Homo sapiens: one gene and its partners. The protein of the gene in region 4 purifies or fractionates together with the protein of the main gene of each other region. This does not show direct contact. Each region holds a gene or a part of one and is shown on either strand. Other genes may lie near its edges. The genes, in order: VAMP7, HSDL1, AP1S2, RNF13, TSPAN3, PI4K2A and LMNB1.

Region 1 (3,500 bases), on a different chromosome or scaffold from region 4:
GGTTGGTAAGCTATTAATTATTGCCTCAATTTCAGAGCCTGTTATTGGTCTATTCAGAGATTCAACTTCTTCCTGGTTTAGTCTTGGGAGGGTGTATGTGTCAAGGAATTTATCCATTTCTTCTAGATTTTCTAGTTTATTTGTGTAGAGGTGTTTGTAGTATTCTCTGATGGTAGTTTGTATTTCTGTGGGATCGGTGGTGATATCCCCTTTTATCATTTTTTATTGCGTCTATTTGATTCTTCTCTCTTTTCTTCTTTATTAGTCTTGCTAGCAGTCTATCAATTTTGTTGATCTTTTCAAAAAACCAGCTCCTGGATTCATTGATTTCTTGAAGGGTTTTTTGTGTCTCTATCTCGTTCAGTTCTGCTCTGAGTTATTTCTTGCCTTCTGCTAGCTTTTGAATGTGTTTGCTCTTGTTCCTCTAGTTCTTTTAATTGTGATGTTAGGGTGTCAATTTTATATCTTTCCTGCTTCCTTTTGTGGGCATTTAGTGCTATAAATTTCCCTCTACACACTGCTTTAAATGTGTCCCAGAGATTCTGGTATGTTGTGTCTTTGTTCTCATTGGTTTCAAAGAACATGTTTATTTCTGCATTCATTTCGTTATGTACCCAGTAGTCATTCAGGAGCAGGTTGTTCAGTCTCCATGTAGCTGAGCAGTTTTGAGTGAGTTTCTTAATCTTGAGTTCTAATTTGATTTCACTGTGGTCTGAGAGACAGTTTGTTATAATTTCTGTTCTTTTACATTTGCTGAGGAGTGCTTTACTTCCAACTATGTGGTCAATTTTGGAATAAGTGCGATGTGGTGCTGAGAAGAATGTATATTCTGTTGATTTGGGGTGGAGAGTTCTGTAGATGTCTGTTAGGTCCGCTTGGTGCAGAGCTGAGTTCAATTCCTGGATATCCTTGTTAACTTTCTGTCTCATTGATCTGTCTAATGTTGACAGTGGGGTGTTAAAGTCTCCCTTTATTATTGTATGGGAGTCTAAGTCTCTTTGTAGGTCTCTAAGGACTTGCTTTATGAATCTGGGTCCTCCTGTATTGGGTGCATAAATATTTAGGATAGTTAGCTCTTCTTGTTGAATTGATCCCTTTACCATTATGTAATGGCCTTCTTTGTCTCTTTTGATCCTTGCTAGTTTAAAGTCTGTTTTATCAGAGACTAGGATTGCAACCCCTGCCTTTTTTTGTTTTCCATTTGCTTGGTAGATCTTCCTGCATCCCTTTATTTTGAGCCTATGTGTGTCTCTGCACATGAGATGGATTTCCTGAATACAGCACACTGATGGGTCTTTACTCTTTATCTAATTTGCCAGTCTGTGTCTTTTAATTGGAGCATTTAGCCCATTTACATTTAAGGTTGATACTGTTATGTGTGAATTTGATCCTGTCATTATGATGCTAGCTGGTTATTTTGCTCGTTAGTTGATGCAGTTTCTTCCTAGCCTTGATGGTCTTTACAATTTGGCATGTTTTTCCAGTGGCTGGTATGTGTTGTTCCTTTCCATGTTTAGTGCTTCCTTCAGGAGCTCTTGTAAGGCAGGCCTGGTGGTGACAAAATCTCTCAGCATTTGCTTGTCTGTAAAGGATTTTATTTTTCCTTCACCTATGAAGCTTAGTTTGGCTGGATATGAAATTCTGGGTTGAAAATTCTTTTCTTTAAGAATTTTGGATATTGGCCCCCACTCTCTTCTGGCTTGTAGAGTTTCTGCCGAGAGATCAGCTGTTAGTCTGATGGGCTTCCCTTTGTGGGTAACCCGACCTTTCTCTCTGGCTGCCCTTAACATTTTTTCCTTCATTTCAACTTTGGTGATCTGACAATTATGTGTCTCGGAGTTGCTCTTCTCGAGGAGTATCTTTGTGGCGTTCTCTGTATTTCCTGAATTTGAATGTTGGCCTGCCTTGCTAGGTTGGGGAAGTTCTCCTGGCTAATATCCTGCAGAGTGTTTTCCAACTTGGTTCCATTCTCCCCATCACTTTCAGGTACACCAATCAGACGTAGATTTGGTCTTTTCACATAGTCCCATATTTCTTGGAGGCTTTTTTCGTTTCTTTTTATTCTTTTTTCTCTAAACTTCTCTTCTCGCTTCATTTCATTCATTTGGTCTTCAATCACGGATACCCTTTCTTCCAGTTGTTCGAATCGGCTACTGAAGTTTGTGCATTCGTCACTTAGTTCTCGTGCCATGGTTTTCAGCTCCATCAGGTCATTTAAGGACTTGTCTACATTGGTTATTCTAGTTAGCCATTCATCTAATCTTTTTTTCAAGGTTTTTAGCTTCTTTGTGCTGGGTTCAAACTTCCTCCTTTAGCTCAGAGAAGTTTGATCATCTGAAGCCTTCTTTTCTCAACTCGTCAAAGTCATTCTCTGTCTACCTTTGTTCTGTTGCTGGTGAGGAGCTGCGTTCCTTTGGAGGAGGAGAGGCGCTCTGATTTTTAGAATTTTCAGTTTTTCTGCTGTTTTTTTCCCTATCTTTGTGGTTTTATCTACCTTTGGTCTTTGATGATGGTGACATACAGATGGGGTTTTTGTGTGGATGTCCTTTCTGTTTGTTAGTTTTCCTTCTAACAGTCAGGACCCTCAGCTGCAGGTCTGTTGGAGTTTGTCGGAGGGCCACTCCAGACCCTGTTTGCCTGGGTATCAGCAGCGGAGGCTGCAGAACAGTGAATATTGCTGAACACCAAATGTTGCTCTCTGATCGTTCCTCTGGAGGTTTTGTCTCAGAGGGGTACCCGCCGTGTGAGGTGTCAGTCTGCCTCTACTGGGGGGTACCTCCCAGTTAGGCTGCTTGGGGGTCAGGGACCCACTTGAGGAGGCAGTCTGTCTGTTCTCAGATCTCAAACTCTGTCCTGGGAGAACCACTACTCTCTTCAAAGCTGTCAGACAGGGACATTTAAGTTTGCAGAGGTTTCTGCTGCCTTTTGTTCAGCTATGCCCTGCCCCCAGAGGTGGAGTCTACAGAGGCAGGCAGGCCTCCTTGAGCTGTGGTGGGCTCCACCCAGTTCGAGCTTCCCGGCAGCTTTGTTTACCTACTCAAGCCTCAGCAATGGCGGGCGCCTCTCCTCCAGCCTCGCTGCCACCTTGCAGTTCAATCTCAGACTGCTGTGCTAGCAATGAGTGAGGCTCCGTGGGTGTGGGACCCTCTGAGCCAGGCGCGGGATATAATCTCCTGGTGTGCTGTTTGCTAAGACCGTTGGAAAAGCGCAGTATTAGGGTGGGAGTGATCCGATTTTCCAGGTGCCATCTGTCACAGCTTCCCTTGGCTAGGAAAGGGAATTCCCTGACCCCTTGTGCTTCCCGGGTGAGGCGATGTCTCGCCCTGCTTCGGCTCACGCTCGGTGGGCTGCACCCACTGTCCAACAAGCCCCAGTGAGATGAAGCCGGTATCTCAGTTGGAAATGCAGAAATCATCCGTCTTGTGCGTTGCTCACGCTGGGGGCTGTAGACTGGAGCTGTTCCTATTTGGCCATCTTGGAACAGGAATCAAAGGAAATTT
Region 2 (3,500 bases), on a different chromosome or scaffold from region 4:
CACTGCAAGCTCTGCCTCCCCGGTTCATGCCATTCTCCTGCCTCAGCCTCCTGAGTAGCTGGGACTACAGGTGCCCGCCACCACGCCCTGCTAATTTTTTGTATTTTTAGTAGAGACAGGGTTTCACCCTGTTGGCCAGGATGGTTTTGATCTCCTGACCTCGTGATCCGCCCGTCTCGGCCTCCCAAAGTGCTGGGACTACAGGCGCGAGCCACCGTGGCTGGCCTGTAGTATCTATTTTTTCATTGAAAACACTGTTTTAACAGCCTAGATGTATGCCTACCTGTTATTAGAAGAATAAGCTTAATATTCCAAGTGTCTAGGTTTCTTTAGTCATAGCTTGTTATTCCCAATTTTATTACATTTTGCTTGAGAGGTCCTGGTACATACAGGTAATTACATACAGGTAATTGTTTTTGCATTTACTTTCCTCATGGCCTTGTGTTTGATTAGTTATGACAAAAGGCACCCACACTTTTTATGAGTTATTTCCGGAACTCACAATTTAGGATGGTCTAACATAGAATCTCGGTTGTTTTTTTTGTTTGTTTTTTGGGGTTTTTCTTGAGATGGAGTCTAACTCTGTCGCCCAGGCTGGAGTGCAGTGGTGCAATCTTGGCTCACTGTTACTTCCGCCTGCTTGATTCAAGTGATTCTCCTTCCTCAGCCACCCAAGCTGGGCAGTCACCACCATACCCGGCTAATTTTTGTGTTTTTAGTAGAGATCAGGTTTCACCATGTTGGCCAGGCTGGTCTTGAACTCCTGACCTCAAGTGATCTGCCCACCTCGGCCTCCCAAAGTGCTGGGATTACAGGTGTGAGCCACCGTCCCTGGCTGGAATGTCAGTTTTTAATGTTCTTATAGGATATTAATGTTTTGGGCCTGTCTTTGGGAGTCCAGTACTTATGACTGTTCAAGGGCTACAGCCAGTGTGAAAACTCTGATACCGTGCCCGTCATCAGCATATCCAGCAGCAGGAGGGTTGTGGGAGGGGTGGTGGCGCGGCTTCCTCTCATGCAGATCTGGAAACAGGTATGCTCGTTCGCTACACTGAAGGGGGGGCCCTAACTTTGAATATATTTCAAAGGATTGTCAATCAAAGGATTTGGGAGCAGTAAGGGGTATTGGTGACTGCTGTACGGAAGATTGCTCAGAAAAAAGAAAGACTTTGTTGAACTAGACAGCTCATATTTTAGGTCATCTCAGCCAATCTGGTTCATAAAGAAAAATTACCCCAAAGGAGCATTTATTTTAGTTGTTTTTAGCTTAAGTATTTGGTTTATGTACTTAGTCAAATTTAAAATGTTTCCTTTTCATGATGAACTTTGGCATTCTCATTGTGGGAGGTGAGTTTCTGTGCACAGAGCCCCAGTGGACAGCATTTTACCTGTAGGGAATAAAGGGGCCCAACTTTTCATTTGAGGAAAACTTTTTTGTTTGTTTGTTTCGAGATGGAGTCTCACTCTGTCGCCCAGGCTGGAGCGCAGTGGCATGATCTCGGCTCACTGTAACTTCCTCCTCCCGGGTTCAAGCAGTTCTGTGCCTCAGCCTCCCAAGTAGCTGGGATTACATGTGCCCACCACCATGCCCAGCTAATTTTTGTATTTTTAATAGAGACGAGGTTTCACCATCTTGGCCAGACTGGTCTTGAACTCCTGACCACCTGCCTTGGCCTCCCAAAGTGCTGGGATTATAGGCATGAGCCACCGCGCCCGGCTGAGGAAAACATTTTTTAAACTTAATGCCACATTGGCTTAATTTGGTAACTTAATATAGCAGCAATATCAACTTAATACGGTACCAGTATGAAACTTTCTTTTTTAGAGAGATTGTTTCCTTATCGTAGGGCATTTAGGAATCCTACTGCTTCTCCATTTCTTCAGTTTTCAGTCATATTTCTTGTGTACGTTTTGTTGATTTGTAATTCACACTACACATTTATATATATTTATTCAATAGTTTTAAAATTATTTTATATGCCTTTTATCACAATATGGTGCCATTCTTGTATGTGTTCCGTTTCAGTGGTTCATTTGTTTTCTTCTGCTTGGTTCCTTTTTTACTTTGCAAAACTTTGTTGAGCTCAGATTACACTGCAGTGGAGTAGGAGGGAATTCCCCATTCTTTCTCAAACTTAGGCTAATTTGTGCTGCTATTGTTGGGTATTTTCTTAGTATCCAGACTTTTTTTTTTTTTTCTATTTTAAAGGGATTTCTTCAAAAGTTGCCACCCCCAGAAGTTTTATATTTCTTTTTCTTTTGGCTTAAAATCATGTTCTTTTTAGAATATAAGCTGTGTCCTTGGGTTTGTGTGTATCTGAGTTCCCTGTAATATAAGTGTAGTCTATTGCAGTTGTTTTGATATTTTGTCTTTCGCAGGATGCACACGGTTGGTTTAGCCTGATATGAAGTCCACTCACTCGGTCTGTGGCCAGACCCCCCATGCCTGGCCTTTGTCTACTTCTGCAGGGTTATCTCTGATTGCAGGCACACACCTACCACATCATGTGGCATTTTACATTATTTTGTTAAATGTCTGCGTCTTCACCTAGGGACGGTCATTTAGTTCATCTGTGAATCCTTTGAATCACAGTACATAGAACATAGTAGGTGCTTAGTATATACTTGCTATGTGGACACTCAACAGAGTTGTGTTGGACTTTTCTTTCCTCAAATGTAAGAGACCAGGCAACATAATGGTTACAAATTAAGTTAGAAGATGGAGGAGTGCTCCCTCTATTGTCATTTGAGAAGCCATTTTTCCAAGCTTGGAGGGTATCTCTTTAAAAAAAATTTTTTTTTTAATTGATGTAAAGGTTTTTGAAAGCTGAGTTTTGTCTCCAGTGGATTGTAAGCTTTTGAGGCCAAGGCCATGTCTTAGTGCCACCTCTGTTTCATCTCCTTTGTCCCTACACAGGTAGTAGGTCCTCCATTCTTGCTGATTATGAATAAAGCAAAGAAATACATGTACCTCTGCTGTATGAATTAGAAGCTTTGTGTTTGTTATTATTAGACTAGGAGCATGTTACAGGCACAGAGCATATTGTGTTTATCTCTGTAGCCACAGCATGTAGTGTAGTACCTGAATTTTAGTGGGAATTTGGTAACTTCTGGTAGTTATGTTGATTAGTCTCCTTGGAAGAAAGTAACTTTATAAGCTACGGATGTTAAATGGTGAGATCATAAATTGGCTGAATCTCCAGGCATGGTGGCTCACACCTGTAATCCCAGCACTTTGGGAGGCCAAGGGTGGCGGATCACCTGAGGTCAGGAGTTTGAGACCATCCTGGCTAACGCGGTGAAACCCTGTCTCTACTAAAAATACAAAAAATTAGCCGGGCGAGGTGGCGGGCGCCTGTAGTCCCAGCTACTCCGGAGGCTGAGGCAGGAGAATGGCGTGAACCCCAGGGGGCGGAGCCTGCAGTGAGCCGAGATTGCGCCACTGCACTCCAGCCTGGGCGACAGCGAGACTCCGTCTCAAAAAAAAAAAAAAAAATTAG
Region 3 (2,754 bases), on a different chromosome or scaffold from region 4:
AAATCACAAAATAAAGGACCAAGGAGGCCAACTTTCAGGTATTACTAGCAACGAATTTTGTAATTAAAAGGCAACACTATATTTTAATGATGGAAAATAATATAAATTTTTGGCATCCAGTAATAAACTTACTTTCGCATCCTAATCATGGTACAGCACAAAGCAAGGAGAAGAGAAATTATATTAAACCATAAATCTTTAGAATATTAATTGCATGTAAAGCACTTCATGGTGTAATCTTAAGTAAATTACTTAAACTCTATGGTCTGTTTCCTTATTTGGAAAACATGGATAATAGTACTTACCTTCATATGTTGAGATTAAGTGAATTAAGGCTCTGCCTAATTTATAGAAAGTGCTTCAAAAATGTTAGGTGATATAGTTACACAATTGAAATCGAAATGATTTAGCATTTATTATTAAACGCAAGTACTATACACCAATTCTACTTATAAAGCTCATATGATGACCTTTTAGTATGTCTGCATAGTAATAAAAATGGGTAAAAATCAGCTTTAGCGAAAAAAGGTATTTTTTTAAAAAGAGTCTAACCTATGAAGTATTCTTGCCCCCTCAAATTGAACCTCAATCTAGTCAGGTTACAGATCTAAATAGAAATGAGGGATATAAGAACAGCTAAACATTGCCATATGAGTATGATGGCCAAATCCATAAGGTAGGACATCCTGCAGCATAAATGACCTCGTTTTAAAAAAAAAAAATGGCAAGGCGGGAAAAAGCAGACGATTTGTTAAAGATTAAAAGAGACTTAAAACGCACATCAATCAGATACAATGTGAGAGTCTTGGTTGGAATCTGATTCTAACAAACCAAATATAAAAAGGCATTTTTCAGACAATTAGGAAAAATTGAGCCAGGCATAAGATAGTAATTATTAATTCCTGTTAATTTTGTGGGGCATGGTACTTTATCTGTTAGGGACACATACTGAAGTATTAAAGACAAACTGACAAGATGTCTAGGGCTTGCTCTAAGATACTGAGGCAAAAATGCGGGGAGTGGTTGGGGAAACAGTATTAAGTTGATGGTTCTTGAAGCTCAGTGATGTGTACACGAGGGTTCTTTATACTATTTCCTATACTCGTGAGTCTTGAAGTTTTCATGATAAAGTTTTTTAAGAAAGTCCAGTGGAAATGATGTAACACCCAAGAGTGATGTAAGCCAATCCCTTTCATTTATATTTAGCCTTAAGCATTAAATACACTGAGAATGACATCTAAATCTCATAAATATTCAAGAAAAATTTAAAATAATTATTTCCATGTAATGTTAAGTAGTTTAAAGGTTCATGTAGCCTTGAATGTATCAATTAAATAATGCCTCCATTGAATTCTACAGTTTACATTCTCAGCTTCTCCATGTAAAAATGCCCCACAGCTACTCCGTGGAGCTGGTCAGACTTTTCCCCATGTGCTCACTGCCTGCAATCTTATATAGCATTTCCTGTAGAGAATCATACTGCTTATCAAATATGCATTATTGAAAATATGTGTCCTTTCTAAAAGGCCTAGTTTCAAAGAATTATTTACACATTTTATTCTTGTGAGACTTGCACAGGTAGAGTTTTAAAATAAATTGTGGTGATAATATAAAATGGAACTTACACATGTTCACACTGAAATTGTAGCTCAAAACTACCCAGAAAAACTATTATCTATCTAAAGTAGTAAAATTTATAGAAACAGAAAGTCGAATGGTGGTTGCCAGGGGCTGGGGGACAGGGAGAAATGGGGAATTGTTGATTAATGGGTATAGAGTTTCAGTTCTGCCAGATGAAAAAGTCCTGCAGATCTGCTGCACAACAATGTGAATAAACTTAACTAACACAACTGAACTGTACACTTAAAACTGCGTAAGATGGTGAATTCTGTGTTATGTGTTTTTAACCACAATTTAAAAAATTTGCCTAGAAAAATGAAAATATAAAACGTTATTTTATGAGGGATGGAAAAGAAAAAGTCATTCACATGAGACGAAGTACATGCAATACTTTTATTTTAGACATGCAAGGAAAGCTATTTCAGAATCTACTAATTTAAAGCAAGCAGCTGTATACAGACAGCAAAAGAAGCAACATTTTGTTACAGCTTAGCACAAGGCATCCAACACAAACAGGCATGAGACAATGCATATTTATGTAGCATTAAAACCAGATGAATAATATATTGTGGGGCAGGAGGAGGAAAGGAGGGGAAAAAAAAATAGAAATGAAAGACCAATGTTTCTCAATGCTTCCAATATATAATGCTAAATTTCCCACCTGATTGATAGCACATCCAGGTGCTTCAAATGTCGTGCATTACAGTGAGAATGTTAAGAATGGAAAATCTTATCTGTGTACCTGCCTAATACTAAGTTTGGTCAAAACACATTTTCATAGATCTTCTTTCAGTGATAAATCGATTTGAACATCTTGTGAAGTTATTGTTTAATAACTTACTTAACTTAGGCTTTATGCTCTCTAGATATAAACAATGAATTCTTTTCCTTTTATAAAAAAATATGCTGCATGTTTTATTAAAAGAATATGCAATAGTTACCAATATTAAAGGTTTTAAAATTCAGAAATATAATGCCACAGTTAACAAAGTATCAAGTATTTAAATGAGGACTTAATATATTAGAATGCCATCACTAGTAAAATATAAGTATTTAGGTATTAAAACTGAATGAATATTAGAATTTTTGAACTATATAAACTCAGCATTAATGCTTTGAAAGAGTTATTATTCA
Region 4 (3,500 bases):
AGATGAATTGGAACTCCTTTGTATATCATTTTCTTCTTTTTTCTTGCTGCATTTAGGATCCTCTCTTTGTCCTTGACCTTTGAGAGTTTGATTAGTGTATGTCTTGGGGTAGTCTTATTTGGGTCAAATCTGTTTGTTCTCTGACCTTCCTGTAGCTGGTTATTTACATCTTTCTCAAGTTTTGGAAAGTTTTTTATTATTTTTTTGAATAAGCTTTCTATACCTTACTTTTGCTCAGCTCCCTCTTGAACACAATAATTCTTAGAGTTAGTCTTTTGAGGTAATTTTCTTTATCTTGTAGGAGATCTTTATTGCTTTTCACTCTTTTCTTTTTTCTCTTCTGTGTACTTAAAAAATAGGCTGTCTTTGACTTGGCTGATTCTTTCTTCTCCTTGATCCATTCTGATGTTGAGAGCCTTTAATGAATTTTTCAGGTCAGCAGATGTATTTCTCAGTTCCAAAATTTGTTTGATTTAAACAAAATTATTTCAATTTTCTGGTTAAAATTTTCTGATAAATTTCTGAATTTCTTTTCTGTGTTATCTTGGAGATCACTGAGTTTCCTTAAAACTACTATTTTGAATTCTTGGTTAAAAAGTTCACATATTAGGCCGGGCGCGGTGGCTCACGCCTGTAATCCCAGCACTTTGGGAGGCTGAGGCGGGCGGATCACAAGGTCAGGAGATCGAGACCATCCCGGCTAAAACGGTGAAACCCCGTCTCTACTAAAAAATACAAAAAATTAGCCGGGCGTAGTGGCGGGCGCCTGTAGTCCCAGCTACTTGGGAGGCTGAGGCAGGAGAATGGCATGAACCCGGGAGGCGGAGCTTGCAGTGAGCCGAGATCCCGCCACTGCACTCCAGCCTGGGCGACAGAGCGAGACTCCGCCTCAGAAAAAAAAAAAAGTTCACATATTGCCATCTTGTTAGGGTTGCTTGTTGGTTTCTTGCTTCGTCCATTTGGGGATCATGGTTCCCTGCTTGCTCTTGTTTCTTGTGGATGTATGTCAGTGTCTTTGCATTGAAAGATTAGTTATTTATTCTGTTCTTCTCTGTCTGGCTTGTTTTGGTTTCTATTGGATGTATTTGGTTAGAGGTTATTTACTGCTAGGTTACTGCCTCCTTTTTGGCTATAGGTGATGCCTTAAGCTTAGGTTCACCTTGGCTCTAGTAAATTATCAAAATGCTGCCCTTCCCAAAGGGGCAGTTCCCAACAGGGATATCTTGGCACTGTGGGAAGGCTGACTGTGGAGGTTCATGCCCAGTGGACCTGTGGGACAAACCTACTGTATGGTGCTACTGAATAGCTACTGTGATTTGGCATCTCCTTTGGTAGAATTACAAAGGAGGGCTCTCCTTTCCAGGGCTAGGGATTGTAGTCCTGCTTCCCCTCTTAGTCTCTATCTACCTCATGGATATTTCTCCCTTCAGGTACTTGTGATGCTTTCTGTGGGTTAAGGAAGGGACAAATCTCCTCCTAGGGAACCCAAGATAGTGGGCAATCTGGTTCCACTTTGGTCTTACTTTTCCAGTGTAGAAACAGTGAGTTGGAGGGAAATTTTCCTTGCAGTTGGTGCTCGGCAAAATGGGGGGAGGGGCATAGTAGATGTGGAAGTCTGATTCTCTGTCTGCTGGGAGTTTTTTTTACTTCTCTGTGGCCCTGGGAATGATCTCTCCTTATATTTGAGTTCTAGCTTATTTCTGGCCGTAATCTCATTGCTGTACATTTGTTTTTCTTTTTCTATGGGGGGAGTCAAACCAGCTTGCTTCTGCATCATCATTTTGGAGCTGGAAGCCAACCTATATGGCTTGAGTTTAATTGCTGTAATAATCATGTTGAAAAATATTTCCTACACTATATGATTTAGCATTGGAGCAAAAACTTAGTGTTTGCAGAAAGGCACTCAGAGCAGGATGCAAATTTAACAAGAATAAAGCAAATATTCATCATTGGAAGGATGACCACAGTTGTACTTCGTTGCAAAACAAAAACCGAGTGCTTTATGGGATTAAGAAGAGGAGCTATTATATGAGCAAATGAAAGAGTGATACATTTTATACCCAAGATATGTACAAACACTTTCCATATCACAAGCTGAGCAATATAATTTCAGGGAGGAGAAATTGCCAAATCCTGTGGAATAGATGATTGGTGTGACCAGTTCAGGACCATACAGAACTGTTGTTAAGGCATTGTCTCATAGCTTTAATTGCCTCCTTCCTTTATAAATGAAATCAGTGAATTTGATCATCTTTTTATGTGTTTATTCACTTTTTACAAAAGATAGACATTTGATTTTTCTGTTTTAGTCTGTTACCAGATTTTTTTTTTTTTTTTTTTTTTCCGAGACGGAGTTTCGCTCTATCGCCCAGGCTGGAGTGCAGTGGCAGAATCTTGACTCACTGCAACTTCCACCTCCTGGGTTCAAGCCATTCTCCTGCCTCAGCCTCCCAAGTAGCTGGGACTACAGGTGTGTGCCACCATGCTCGGCTAATTTTTGTATTTTTAGTAGAGATGGGGTTTTGCCATGTTGGCCAGGCTGGTCTTGAACTCCTGACTTCAGGTGATCCATCTGCCTCGGCCTCCCAAAGTGCTGGGATTGCAAATGTGAGTCACTGTGACCAGCCTGTTACTACATTTTCTTATGTCAAACCATCCTGCATTCCTGGGAAAGCAACTTGCTGTTTACTTTTTAAATTCATGGTTATCTCGTGGACGTCTTTTCAGTTTAGTGTATACAGGTCTTCCTTATTTTTTTAAATGGCTGCATTATTTTCCTATTGTATAAATATACTATAATTGTTTAAATAGTTACCTTGTGGATATGCATGATTTCCAGTTTTTGCTATTAAAAATAATGTACCAATGACTGTCTTTCCACATACACCTTACATACTCAGGCTAGCATTTCTGCAGAATAAATTTCTAGAAATTTATTTATTATGTGCATTTCATTGTCTGCTAACATGAAAGAAAGTTAATTTTTAAGACATATTTGCTTGGTTTGAAAATGTCAAATATTGTTCGAAAATATACCAGTGGTTGTCTTTGGGGTGATTGGCTTATGCCTGAGTTTGCTTATTATTATTATTTTTTTAACTTCAATACAAAAGATAGAACTTATTTTAGAAAACTAAATGCTTGTGAAAGCAAATGCTGCTTTAGAAGTTCCGTGATTGTGAGCAATTTTACATGCCCAATGATACATCTAGCATAATGCAAAACACATGACAAATCGAAAAGATATTTGTAGAAGTAAGTTGATTGATTTACTGAGTGAAACAGAGAGATAATTTTTACCAATTCTTTTTCAGGGTTTTTTGATTAACTCAAAACCAGAGAATGCCTGTGAACCCATAGTGCCTCCACCAGTAAAAGACAATTCATCTGGCACTTTCATCGTGTTAATTAGAAGACTTGATTGTAATTTTGATATAAAGGTATGATTATCTTTTTTCATTTTTTGTTTCCTATTTGTTCAGTTAGCTAATTTAAATCAT
Region 5 (3,500 bases), on a different chromosome or scaffold from region 4:
TATTTCTGTGTAAATTAGCCATGTTTCTTCACATACATGGCTATCCTGATGTGACCAATATTTTTCCCCAACCTTCACCCTTGAAAAGTTTATTTCATCACCTAGCCAGATGAGAAACATCTTGAACTTTTTTTTATCATCTGATTTCCCCTTCCCTGACCCCAGTCTGTACTCTCCCAAAGTACTTAGCCAAAGGGGTGATGACGCAAGAGAGAGGTATGTGTCACAGGAAAGGTGGGAGTCCAGATTGACTCCAGGGGAGGTGGGAGGTCTATATATACCTTTAGAAAACAAGATAAGAAAAGGCAACAGAAAAACTGTCAAAAAAAAGTTGTTATGGACAGTCTGATACACACAAAGGTAGAAAGAATAGTGTAATAGATGTTTGCACCCCGACCTTGCCTCAGTAATATCAACTTTTCGTCAGTCTTATTGCCCCTACTTACTTTTTGCTTCATTATCTTAAAGCAAATCTCAAAATTTTTAAGACCAAATATTTTAAATACTTTGTCATTGGAAATAATATTTAACATGGAACCAGATATTTAACATGTAAGACATGAAGATTTTCCTTAGTTAGAAACTACCGCTTATAGGCAATGTACTTTTCTTTTCTTTTTTTTTTTTTTTTTTTTTTTTTTTTTTTTTTTTTTTTTTTGAGATGGCGAAATTTCACTCTTGTTGCCCAGGCTGGAGTGCAGTGGCGCGATCTTGGCTCACTGCAACCTCCACCTCCCGGGTTCAAGTGATTCTCCTGCCTCAGCCTTTGTATTTTTAGTAGAGACGGGGTTTCACCATGTTGGTCAGGCTGGTCTTGAACTCTTGACCTCAGGTGACTCGCCCATCTCGGCCTCCCAAAGTGCTGGGATTACAGGCGTGAGCCACTGCACCCGGCCTGGCAATGTACTTTTCATATGGAGATTCTGGAGCCACTAGCCATGTCTGGCTGTTTACATTAAAATTTAAAATGCAGTTTTCTAGTCACACTAGCCACAATTTAAGTGCTCAGTAGAGCTTCATGTGGCTAGTGGCTGCTATATTGGATCATGCAGACTTTCCATTATAGAAAGTTGTATCGGACATCACTGGTCTAGAGTAGCTTATTTTAAAGCTCTGTAGTACATGGAACTTCAGGTATTTGGTTTTTGTGAGAAATAATACTTATTCTCTTCTCCTTTAGCTGCATTGTTGTGGAATTCACAACTACTCAGACTGGGAAAATACAGATTGGTTCAAAGAAACCAAAAACCAGAGTGTCCCTCTTAGCTGCTGCAGAGAGACTGCCAGCAATTGTAATGGCAGCCTGGCCCACCCTTCCGACCTCTATGCTGAGGTGAGTCTCTTGGCCACGACTTGAGTCTAGCTTGATTAACCTGTTTTTCACCATGTCTTATCACCATCTGGGACTTCTTTTCTGCCACCTTGCTTGTCTTTAATGTCATATATTGTTTTACTGTAAATTATTATAAAATGCATGTCTTTGTTTTAATTACATGTCTGTAAATTATACCAATCATGGAATCTTTTTTCCACTCTTTCAGTTTCTGTCATTTTCCTTTCTGTAAGTGGGTAGTGGCCTGTGAATCTGCAGCTTTAACTTTTAAAGAACACTTCTAACGAGGATGACTGTGTTTGTTACAGGGGTGTGAGGCTCTAGTAGTGAAGAAGCTACAAGAAATCATGATGCATGTGATCTGGGCCGCACTGGCATTTGCAGCTATTCAGGTAAGCACAGCTTGCCAAGGAGTTCTATCGGAGTGAGTTGGTTCTCTGTTGTCAGCCCTGAATGGTTTTAATCCCCATCACAGTGAATCTTTGTGTATGTAGGTAATGTGGAAGTGACTGAGGTACTGGCCTCCAGTTTCCCATGTTTTCCATTTCTTGTCTATACACCTAGACCCGGAATGGTCTAAAGAAACCAGAAATCTGGATGGGGAGGGACCACGTGTTGAGGGAACTCCTCGTCTTACTGTCTTTCTTGATTAGTGAGTGACCTGTTCAAAACATAAACGAACTGTTGTCTTAGTGTATTCTTGGAAGATATTTTATTAGAATGTCACAAAATTTTTAAAAATTGTACTTCTTTCTTTCAGTTTGGGAATACAAAGCTTTATTCAGTTTTTTTGTATGCTAGTTCTCCCTCTAGTTCTTGTTTTTCTGTCCTCACAGGTTTTATATATTCATATACGTAAATCAAGAACTGGTACTACAGCACTGGTCTCTTGCACTAAACACAACAACTTTTAAAAATAGAGACAAGGTCTCACTCTGTCACCCAGGCTTGAGTGCAATGACATGATAATAGCTCACTGTAACTTTGAACTCCTGGGCTCAAGCGATCCTCCTGCTTCAGCCTCTCCAGTAGCTGGGACTACAAGCACGGGCCACCACACCAGACTAATTTTTAATTTTTTTTTTTTTTTTCCAGAAATGGGGTCTCATTATGTTGCCCAGGCTGGTCTCAAACTCCTGGCCTCAAGCAATCCTCTGTCTTGGCCTCCTAAAGTGTTGGGATTTACAGGCGTGAGCCACCGCACCCAGCTTATGCTTTCTTTTCTTTTCTTTTCTTTTTTTTTTTTTTACGACAGAGTTTTGCTTTTGTTGCCCAGGCTAGAGTGCAATGGTGTGATCTCAGCTCACTGCAACCTCTGCCTCCCAGGTTCCAGTGATTCTTCTGCCTCAGCTTCCCAAGTAGCTGGGATTACAGGTTCCCGCTACCATGCCCAGCTAATTTTTGTATTTTTAGTAGAGACAGGTTTTTACCATGTTGGCCAGGTTGGTCTTGAACTCCTGACCTCAGGTGATCCACCTGCCTCGGCCTCCCAAAGTACTGGGATTATAGACGTGAGCCATCGCGCCCAGCCTCAGCTTATGCTTTCTTAAGCCTGAAACCTATTTCAAGAGCTAAAAGAGCCAGGTGTGATGGGTTACACCTGTAATCCCAGCACTTTGGGAGACCGAGGAGTAGGATCCCATGATGTTAGGAGTTTGAGACCAGCCTGGGCAATAAGACTCCATTTCTACCAAAAAAAAAATTTTTTTTAAAAAAGAAAAATGTAGATAACTTTTATTTGTTAAATAAAACCAATGTAATTGCTAGTTTAAATGTAAGTTGCTTGGATTGCTTGCTCTTTGTATATTTGAACAGAAGCTAGTGTATTTAATGGGAAAGGCCTTTTAAAATGGCAAAAGGATGATTGTTTACTTTGCTGATATTCAGACAGCCCTGAAATGATTCATTAAAAAGCCTACCTCTTTATTTGCCATGGTCTTTGCCCTTCTAAGCATTTACTCTGTAGCTCTGCATAGCAGTAATCTGATGATCAGCAGGGATTTATTTCATATTTTGATTATTTATGCAAACACATTCATTTAGCTAAAAATAATGAAATATGAGGAAGGTCTCTTTTCCCAAATAGAATTCTGAACTGTGCATTCTTAATGATTTTATGTTCAGTAATAAAGCCACATGTACTAGCATGCAGCAAAAAAGTTTTGGA
Region 6 (3,500 bases), on a different chromosome or scaffold from region 4:
ACCTGAAACCTCATAGGAGCAGAGAGCAGAGACAGCCAGTGAGTGAGAATTAGAGCCTTACCATTTGAAGTTCCAATGCAATGTGAACCTTGTTTCTATAATGACAGATGCTCTGATCAACTGGATAGAGTCCTGTCACAAGAGTTGGGGAGACAGGGAGAGGAGTCCTCTTACTATTCTCCAGCAGCTATATGTTAAGCTTCCAAAGTTCTGTCTCATCTCAGTCTCATGGAAGACAAGTATTTTTTTTTTTTGAGACGGAGTCTCGCTCTGTTGCCCAGGATAGAGTGTGGTGGCACAATCTCAGCTCACTGCAACCTCTGCCTTCCAGGTTCAAGCGATTCTCCTGCCTCAGCCTCCCAAGTAGCTGGGATTACAGGCACGCACCACCATGCTCAGCTAAGTTTTGTATTTTTAGTAGAGACAGGGTTTCACCCTGTTGGCCAGGCTGGTCTCGAACTCCTGACCTGAGGTGATCCACCCACTTAGGCCTCCCAAAGTGCTGGGATTACAGGCGTGAGCCAATGAGCCCAGCCAAGACAAGTATTTTTGTTGTTGCTGACTTTCTGATGCAAAAGATCCTCAGGCCTCGTGAAGGTTCTCTAACAGGGAAAGAGGAAGACCAAAGATAGGGACGAAAGGGATTGTGGGGGTGACACTAACGATTAGAATAGCTGATAAAAATATCACAGGCTAACATATGGAGGGTTTACGTTGTGCCTGGCACTCACTCAGCTATGTGCTTCATATAGGCTGTCTTGTGTAATATTGATGGCCACTCTACAAAGTAGGAACTATTTATATCCCTATTTTTACAGTAAGGAAACTGAGCCTAGGGAGGTTACATGACTTGCCCAAGTGTTACACAAATCAAAAACTGCAGAGCAAGAATTCAAACTCAAGTCCTCTGATTCTTGGGCACCACACTCCAGAAGCACCAACAGAGCAGGTAGGCATAGAGCCAGACACGGTCTGCTATTTGCCTAGTAAAGGAAGAAAACTATAGAGTGATAAGCAAGGAGAATGTAAAAGTTTCTAGAGTCTAAGAGGAGCCTAGTAGAAGCATTTCAGGTTAGGAGACTTAAGAACATTAATTATCATACAAGATGTTCAAAGCATGCTGTAAAACTATCTGCACAGAGAGGGAAAAGTAAGGCATAAAGAGAAGGAATGAGCTGTACAAAGCCAGGCAGTGAATTAGATGTGAAATGGGAACTAGAAGCCTGGTCAAACATTTTCTCGCTAGACCTAAAGTTGGAAGAACTTTGGTATTGTTTCTCATGATTTCATATTCATTTACTGACTCAGCTGGTACTTCATGAATGCTTACTATAAATATAGTATTTTGCTAGGTGCTGAGAATGAGAGAGGAAATCTTGAGAAGTGGTCTCTGACTTCTATAACTTACAAACTAGTTGGCTAATTGTTTGGAGTTTAGTAGCAAAGGAGCAGACATGGTTAAATATCCACAATAGTCACATTTTCCTCTCAAACGGAAGGGAAGTTTCTACTGCTGATCAATCTCTTTGCTCATAGAATCTGCTATCTAAACCTGAGAAGACATCTTTAAGGCTGGGTGTGGTGGCTCACACTTGTAATCCCAGCACTTTGGGAGGCCAAGGCAGGAGGATAGCTTGAGCCCAGGAGTTCAAGACCAGCCTGGGCAAAACAGGGAGACCTTGTCTCTACAAAAAATTAAAAAAAAAAAAAATTAGCCAGGCATGGTGGCACATGCCCGTAGTCCCAACCTGAGAGGCTGAGGTGGGAGGACTGCTTGAGCCTGGGAGGTCAAGGCTGCAGTGAGTTGTGATCATGCCACTGCACCCCAGCCTGGGCAACAGAGCAAGACCCTGTCTCTAAAAATAAGAAAGAAAAGAAAACTTTAAGCAGAGGGATTTTAATCTAGAGACATGCTCCCTGGGGTGTCAACAGATAGACTGCAACGTTTATGAACCATTGCCCTAAAATTATACACAAAACAATAATTGCAAATATATGTACTTTTTCTGGAAAGGGGGTCTATAGGTTTCATCAGATTCTCAAAGAGTTATTTACTAAATAACTAAATAAATTTAGTTTTAGTTATTTAGTAAATAACTAAATAAACTAGCATAGACTAGTTAAGACTAAGCACGGAGCCAGGATTGTTTAGATGACTCAGCAGCCTCAGGGCATCAGATGAGAGTCCCACCTAAGTTGTTACTAAACCCCAGGTAGCCACGTACTCAGTGAATGATGTGTCCGGACATGTTCATATGCTGACCAGTAGATTCCTTCCCCTCATAACCTTTGGTGAGTTTCATGGAATACCTTGTAGTGCAGGGGTTCTTAGCCTGGTGTCAGTAAACTCCCTCAAATTGTATGCAATCAATTCTGTATTCAAGCATATTGGTGGGGGTGGGGGTTGGGGGAGACCTCAACTATGTCTATAACACATACAAGATGTGTATGAATCCATTCTGAGTGTGAGTTTGCCTAGATCTGGCACCCCTATTTTGATGTGTTCAGACAAGTCCCAAAATTCGACAGCATAAAGATAAGTTAGAAATATTCCATGTCAGTTCCCTGTAGGGTTCAGGCCAGACCATTGTTCTAACCCTCAGCCTGTCCTAAAGTCTTCCTTGTCAGACCCTGCAGAAGTTCTTAGCTGTCATCAGCCAGTCCTAGACTGTATCGAAATGCTGGGATGGCTCAGAAGTCTGAGAGTAAGCCACAAAGTCACTAGGTTTCTAACTAGCTTGGGGTTAGCTGGGATTCAAAGACCAAGGGAGCCATAAACATGCAGTAGAAGTTTGTGAATTTCCTAAAATTGTATGCAAAAATTGTGTGTGTATCCTTCAAAAGATAGCCTTCATCAGGTGATCAAATCATAAGCCTAATCCTGCCATCCTCCCGAAAAAAGATCGAGAACCCAGACTTAGGGTATAAATGACCCCACTGGACCCAAGGTCCCACTAACATGTAGCAGGGCTTAGGCCCCAGGAAAACTGTGGCCAGGCAGTAAGGCTTCCTGGAGATGGGTCACTGACCTTTGTACGGGGAACAATGTTGAGTTCCAGTTTTTGGTCCACCAGGCTGGCCCCTGCTTCTGAGAGATAGCCCTGGTTAAGGACAAGGCAGTCACGGCCAAAGCAGCAAGGACAGCACAGCTTCTGCAGCCACTTGGTCCACTTAGGATTAAGATGCCCATAGGGCTCTTCATTCTTGGGTTTGAAGACAGCAATGATCCTCTACAGAGACCAAAGAAAAAGAGGATGTTAAATCCGAGTTGACCAAAATAGCCCACAGACCAAGTCAGCAGGAATCTGGAAAGAAATGACAGGGCATAGGCAGACAATTCCTACTTACAGTTGGACTCAGGTTTCTCCCAGTTGGTAAGGGGAAGACACCAGCTCGTGTGTGCAGCTAAGAGACCCACTGCTAGAAAGGGTTGTGGCCAAAGAACATCTTAAGTCTTCTCTTTCTTCCTTGCTCCTTTTTCCCTCTTCTCCATCTCTTTT
Region 7 (3,500 bases), on a different chromosome or scaffold from region 4:
TCTTAACATTTTTTTGGCTAAGTACAGAAAAATTATATGTATATTTACAGAACTTACATTTGTGGAATATGTCTTTTATTCTTTTATCAGCCAAAACTATCCTGAGGTCTGTGTTTTGTATTTGAGGAATTTTGGGTTTTAATTTCTTAAAATCTCTTGAATTCTAGTGAGTTAGAGATTCCATAGGGTTGTACTGTTTTCCAGTCTAGGAAATGATTTAAAATAGCTGCCTGGTGCTAATGTTGGAATGTTCCTAGAAAGTAAATATGTTTCCTTGCATCTTAAGTCTAGAGCATGTTTGGAAAGGATTCAAGAATTAGAGGACTTGCTTGCTAAAGAAAAAGACAACTCTCGTCGCATGCTGACAGACAAAGAGAGAGAGATGGCGGAAATAAGGGATCAAATGCAGCAACAGCTGAATGACTATGAACAGCTTCTTGATGTAAAGTTAGCCCTGGACATGGAAATCAGTGCTTACAGGAAACTCTTAGAAGGCGAAGAAGAGAGGTAAGGAACTTAAGGGTCACCCTACCTTATGGTCCACTTTTTGCCTCTCACCCTTTTTATTGAAATAAAAATAAATAGCATTTTAAAAAGAACTTTATTTTCTTGGTCATTTCTTTGAACACCTAGGTATAGAAGTAGTAATAGATCATATTTCTACCTCATCGCAGAAAATGTTGCTCAAGTACTCTTAGTTTATTTATTATTATTACTTTAAATGCTGAACTGCATCAGGATGGATTAGTTCCTTTGAGATTTTAAGTGTTTTGGTGATTTAATATATTGTAAAATGCCAAACTGGCTGAAAGAGACTTTACATATTATTTATTTATTTATTTATTTATTTATTTATTTATTTATTTATTTTTGAGACAGAGTCTCAGCCTGTTGCCCAGGCTAGAGTGCAGTGGTGTGATTCTCGGCTCACTGCAACCTTCACCTCCTGGTTTCAAGCGATTTGCCTACCTCAGCCTCCTGAGTAACTGGGATTACAGGCGTGTGTCACCACACCCGGCTAATTTTGTTTTTAGTAGAGAAGAGGTTTCACCATGTTGGCCAGGCTGGTCTCAAACTCCTGACTGCAAGTGACCCACCCGCCTCAGCCTCCCAAAGTGCTAGGATTACAGGTGTGAGCCACCACGCCCGGCTGGCTTTATATATATTTTAAATCTGGTCAATGTATAAATATTTTTGACACCTGTTCTCAGAAAAGAGTTCCAAAAGGGCCAGGTGCATTGCCTCATGCCTGTAATCCCGGCACTTTGGGAGGCCAAGGCAGGCGGATCACATGAGGTCAGGAGTTCAAGACCAGCCTGGTCAACATGGTGAAACTCCGTCTCTAATGAAAATACAAAAATTAGCTGGGCATGGTGGCAGGCACCTGTAATCCCAGCTACTTGGGAGGCTGAGACAGAATTGCTTGAACCTGGGAGGTGGAGTTTGCAGTGAGCCAAGATTGTGCCATTGCACTCCAGCCTGGGTGACAAGAGTGAAACTCTGTCTCACAAAAAAAAGAAAAAGAAAAAAAAAGTTCCAAAAGGAAAGTGGCTGATTTAGGATAAAAAGCCAGATAATTTTAATATTATATCCGTTGTGATCATAAGAAAGTACAGGTACGAAAAGAGAAAAAAGTACACCAACTATAACAGTGGCTGTGGTGGGTGGTGGTAGATCAGATGACTTTCTACCCATTTACCAGACTTCTTGCATTATGGTTATATTACTTCCATCCCTAGAGAAAACATTCAGATTGTTATTTTTTAAAAAAGAAAATTGACGATGGGCACCTTATGAAGAAGTTTACATTAGTTAAGGTAAACTTTGGCTTTGGCTAACAGATTGTAAGTAATATTTTGCTTTAGAAATGCATGGGTGGGATATTCTTCTTCTTATTATTATTATTTTGAGACAGGTTTTCACTCTGTCACCCAGGCTAGAGTGCAGTGGTGTGATCTCAGCTCACTGCAGCCTCTGCCTCCCGGGTTCAAGCCATTCTCCTGCCTCAGCCTCCTGAGTAGCTAGTATTACAGGCGCCCACCACCACGCCTGGCTAATTTTTGTATTTTTAGTAGAGACGGGGTTTCACCATGTTGGTCAGGCTGATCTTGAACTCCTGACCTCAAGCAATCCACCTGCCTTGGCCTCCCAAAGTGCTGTTGGGTTACAGACATGAGCCTCTGTGCCCAGCCCTTGTTTTTTTGTTTTTTTTTTTTTTAAGGCGAGAAGGGCATATGTGTTTTAAAAATGAATTGTTTTATTTTTCCCATATAGGTTGAAGCTGTCTCCAAGCCCTTCTTCCCGTGTGACAGTATCCCGAGCATCCTCAAGTCGTAGTGTACGTACAACTAGAGGAAAGCGGAAGAGGGTTGATGTGGAAGAATCAGAGGCGAGTAGTAGTGTTAGCATCTCTCATTCCGCCTCAGCCACTGGAAATGTTTGCATCGAAGAAATTGATGTTGATGGGAAATTTATCCGCTTGAAGAACACTTCTGAACAGGTAATAAAATAGACCCTTTTTTTTCTAGCAAGGCTTTGTGGATTGCTAGATTCTCTTGCAATTGTCATAGCTCCTTAGTTTTTGTTTGGATTCATTACGTCTTCATGGAATAAGGGTTTATGTCCTTTTTACTTAAATTCATAAAATAAAATAAAAATTAAAATAGGAGGAGGAAGAGTTAGGTACCCTTAGTAGTTTAAAGATTTGCTTCATTAACCCTTCTTTAGAGGGCCAGGGCTTTTTTGAAAAGCATGTTCCTTTTATCACAGTGGTTCTGAGGATGAGTTATTATTATTCTCTGCCCTAGCCAAATTTGTGAAGAAGTTGGAGCAATTGGATGAAAATGGTGGATATTCTTTCGGTCATTAACTTAATAAAAAGCTTACTGAAAGAAGGAGATAAGAGCCTGGACTCAGATATTAAGGGAATATTTTTCCCTGCAAATAAATGAATGAACAAATGCTAATACTTTACATGAAAAATAGCATGAAGCCTTATTTTGAAATATGTTTAAAAGTAAACATGAAGTATTCATAGCAGAGATTTCTGAAATTTAGGGCTGGGGCTTTCGGGAGCTCTGTAGTGTGGGCCTTCCCTAGCTCTGCATCAAGGAGCTGGAGGCCATGATGGGTTGTGAGATGATACTAGAGGAAGGCATGGTCTGGGAGCGTGCAGGCGGCAGTGGGATGGATGTCACATCTTGAAACATATGTTCAGGGCCTGCTAAAAGTAGTTTTGAAAATTAGTCTTTTCTCACCACAGTTATTAAAACTATCTTGCATGTGGATGAATATGTAATTTGGATGAGTGAAGGAGCACTAATGAGCACCAACAGTTTTAATGCTAAAGAGAATAGGCTCTAAGGTCTCTTTGTAGCCTTTTTTTTTTTTTTGAGTCTTGCTCTGTTGCCCAGGTCGGAGTGCAGTGGCATGATCTTGGCTCCTCCACCTCTTGGGTTCAAGAGATTCTCCTGCCTCAGCCTCCTGAGTAGCTGGGATTA

Evidence for each region.
Region 1: the proteins of RNF13 (region 4) and VAMP7 purify together in Homo sapiens (affinity purification with mass spectrometry; one large-scale study listed by BioGRID and IntAct). This does not show direct contact.
Region 2: the proteins of RNF13 (region 4) and HSDL1 purify together in Homo sapiens (affinity purification with mass spectrometry; one large-scale study listed by BioGRID and IntAct). This does not show direct contact.
Region 3: the proteins of RNF13 (region 4) and AP1S2 purify together in Homo sapiens (affinity purification with mass spectrometry; 2 studies listed by BioGRID and IntAct, with this or other methods). This does not show direct contact.
Region 5: the proteins of RNF13 (region 4) and TSPAN3 purify together in Homo sapiens (affinity purification with mass spectrometry; 3 studies listed by BioGRID and IntAct, with this or other methods). This does not show direct contact.
Region 6: the proteins of RNF13 (region 4) and PI4K2A purify together in Homo sapiens (affinity purification with mass spectrometry; one large-scale study listed by BioGRID and IntAct). This does not show direct contact.
Region 7: the proteins of RNF13 (region 4) and LMNB1 purify together in Homo sapiens (co-purification; one study listed by BioGRID). This does not show direct contact.

What each region holds. Positions count from the first base shown.
Region 1 is NC_000023.11:155,933,345-155,936,844, forward strand, and holds part of VAMP7 (vesicle-associated membrane protein 7), read left to right. Parts: intron 1-3,500. UniProt on the Homo sapiens protein: Involved in the targeting and/or fusion of transport vesicles to their target membrane during transport of proteins from the early endosome to the lysosome. Required for heterotypic fusion of late endosomes with lysosomes and homotypic lysosomal fusion.
Region 2 is NC_000016.10:84,131,678-84,135,177, reverse strand, and holds part of HSDL1 (inactive hydroxysteroid dehydrogenase-like protein 1), read left to right. Parts: intron 1-3,500.
Region 3 is NC_000023.11:15,828,060-15,830,813, forward strand, and holds part of AP1S2 (AP-1 complex subunit sigma-2), read right to left. Parts: exon of another isoform or gene 2,000-2,754; intron 142-1,999; coding exon 133-141; intron 1-132. UniProt on the Homo sapiens protein: Subunit of clathrin-associated adaptor protein complex 1 that plays a role in protein sorting in the late-Golgi/trans-Golgi network (TGN) and/or endosomes.
Region 4 is NC_000003.12:149,868,715-149,872,214, forward strand, and holds part of RNF13 (E3 ubiquitin-protein ligase RNF13 isoform 1 precursor), read left to right. Parts: intron 1-3,314; coding exon 3,315-3,440; intron 3,441-3,500. UniProt on the Homo sapiens protein: E3 ubiquitin-protein ligase that regulates cell proliferation. Involved in apoptosis regulation. Mediates ER stress-induced activation of JNK signaling pathway and apoptosis by promoting ERN1 activation and splicing of XBP1 mRNA.
Region 5 is NC_000015.10:77,050,610-77,054,109, reverse strand, and holds part of TSPAN3 (tetraspanin-3), read left to right. Parts: intron 1-1,180; coding exon 1,181-1,333; intron 1,334-1,641; coding exon 1,642-1,725; intron 1,726-3,500. UniProt on the Homo sapiens protein: Regulates the proliferation and migration of oligodendrocytes, a process essential for normal myelination and repair.
Region 6 is NC_000010.11:97,650,671-97,654,170, reverse strand, and holds part of PI4K2A (phosphatidylinositol 4-kinase type 2-alpha), read right to left. Parts: intron 3,231-3,500; coding exon 3,030-3,230; intron 1-3,029. UniProt on the Homo sapiens protein: Membrane-bound phosphatidylinositol-4 kinase (PI4-kinase) that catalyzes the phosphorylation of phosphatidylinositol (PI) to phosphatidylinositol 4-phosphate (PI4P), a lipid that plays important roles in endocytosis, Golgi function, protein sorting and membrane trafficking and is required for prolonged survival of neurons.
Region 7 is NC_000005.10:126,818,636-126,822,135, forward strand, and holds part of LMNB1 (lamin-B1), read left to right. Parts: exon of another isoform or gene 1-286; coding exon 287-507; intron 508-2,274; coding exon 2,275-2,500; intron 2,501-3,500. UniProt on the Homo sapiens protein: Lamins are intermediate filament proteins that assemble into a filamentous meshwork, and which constitute the major components of the nuclear lamina, a fibrous layer on the nucleoplasmic side of the inner nuclear membrane.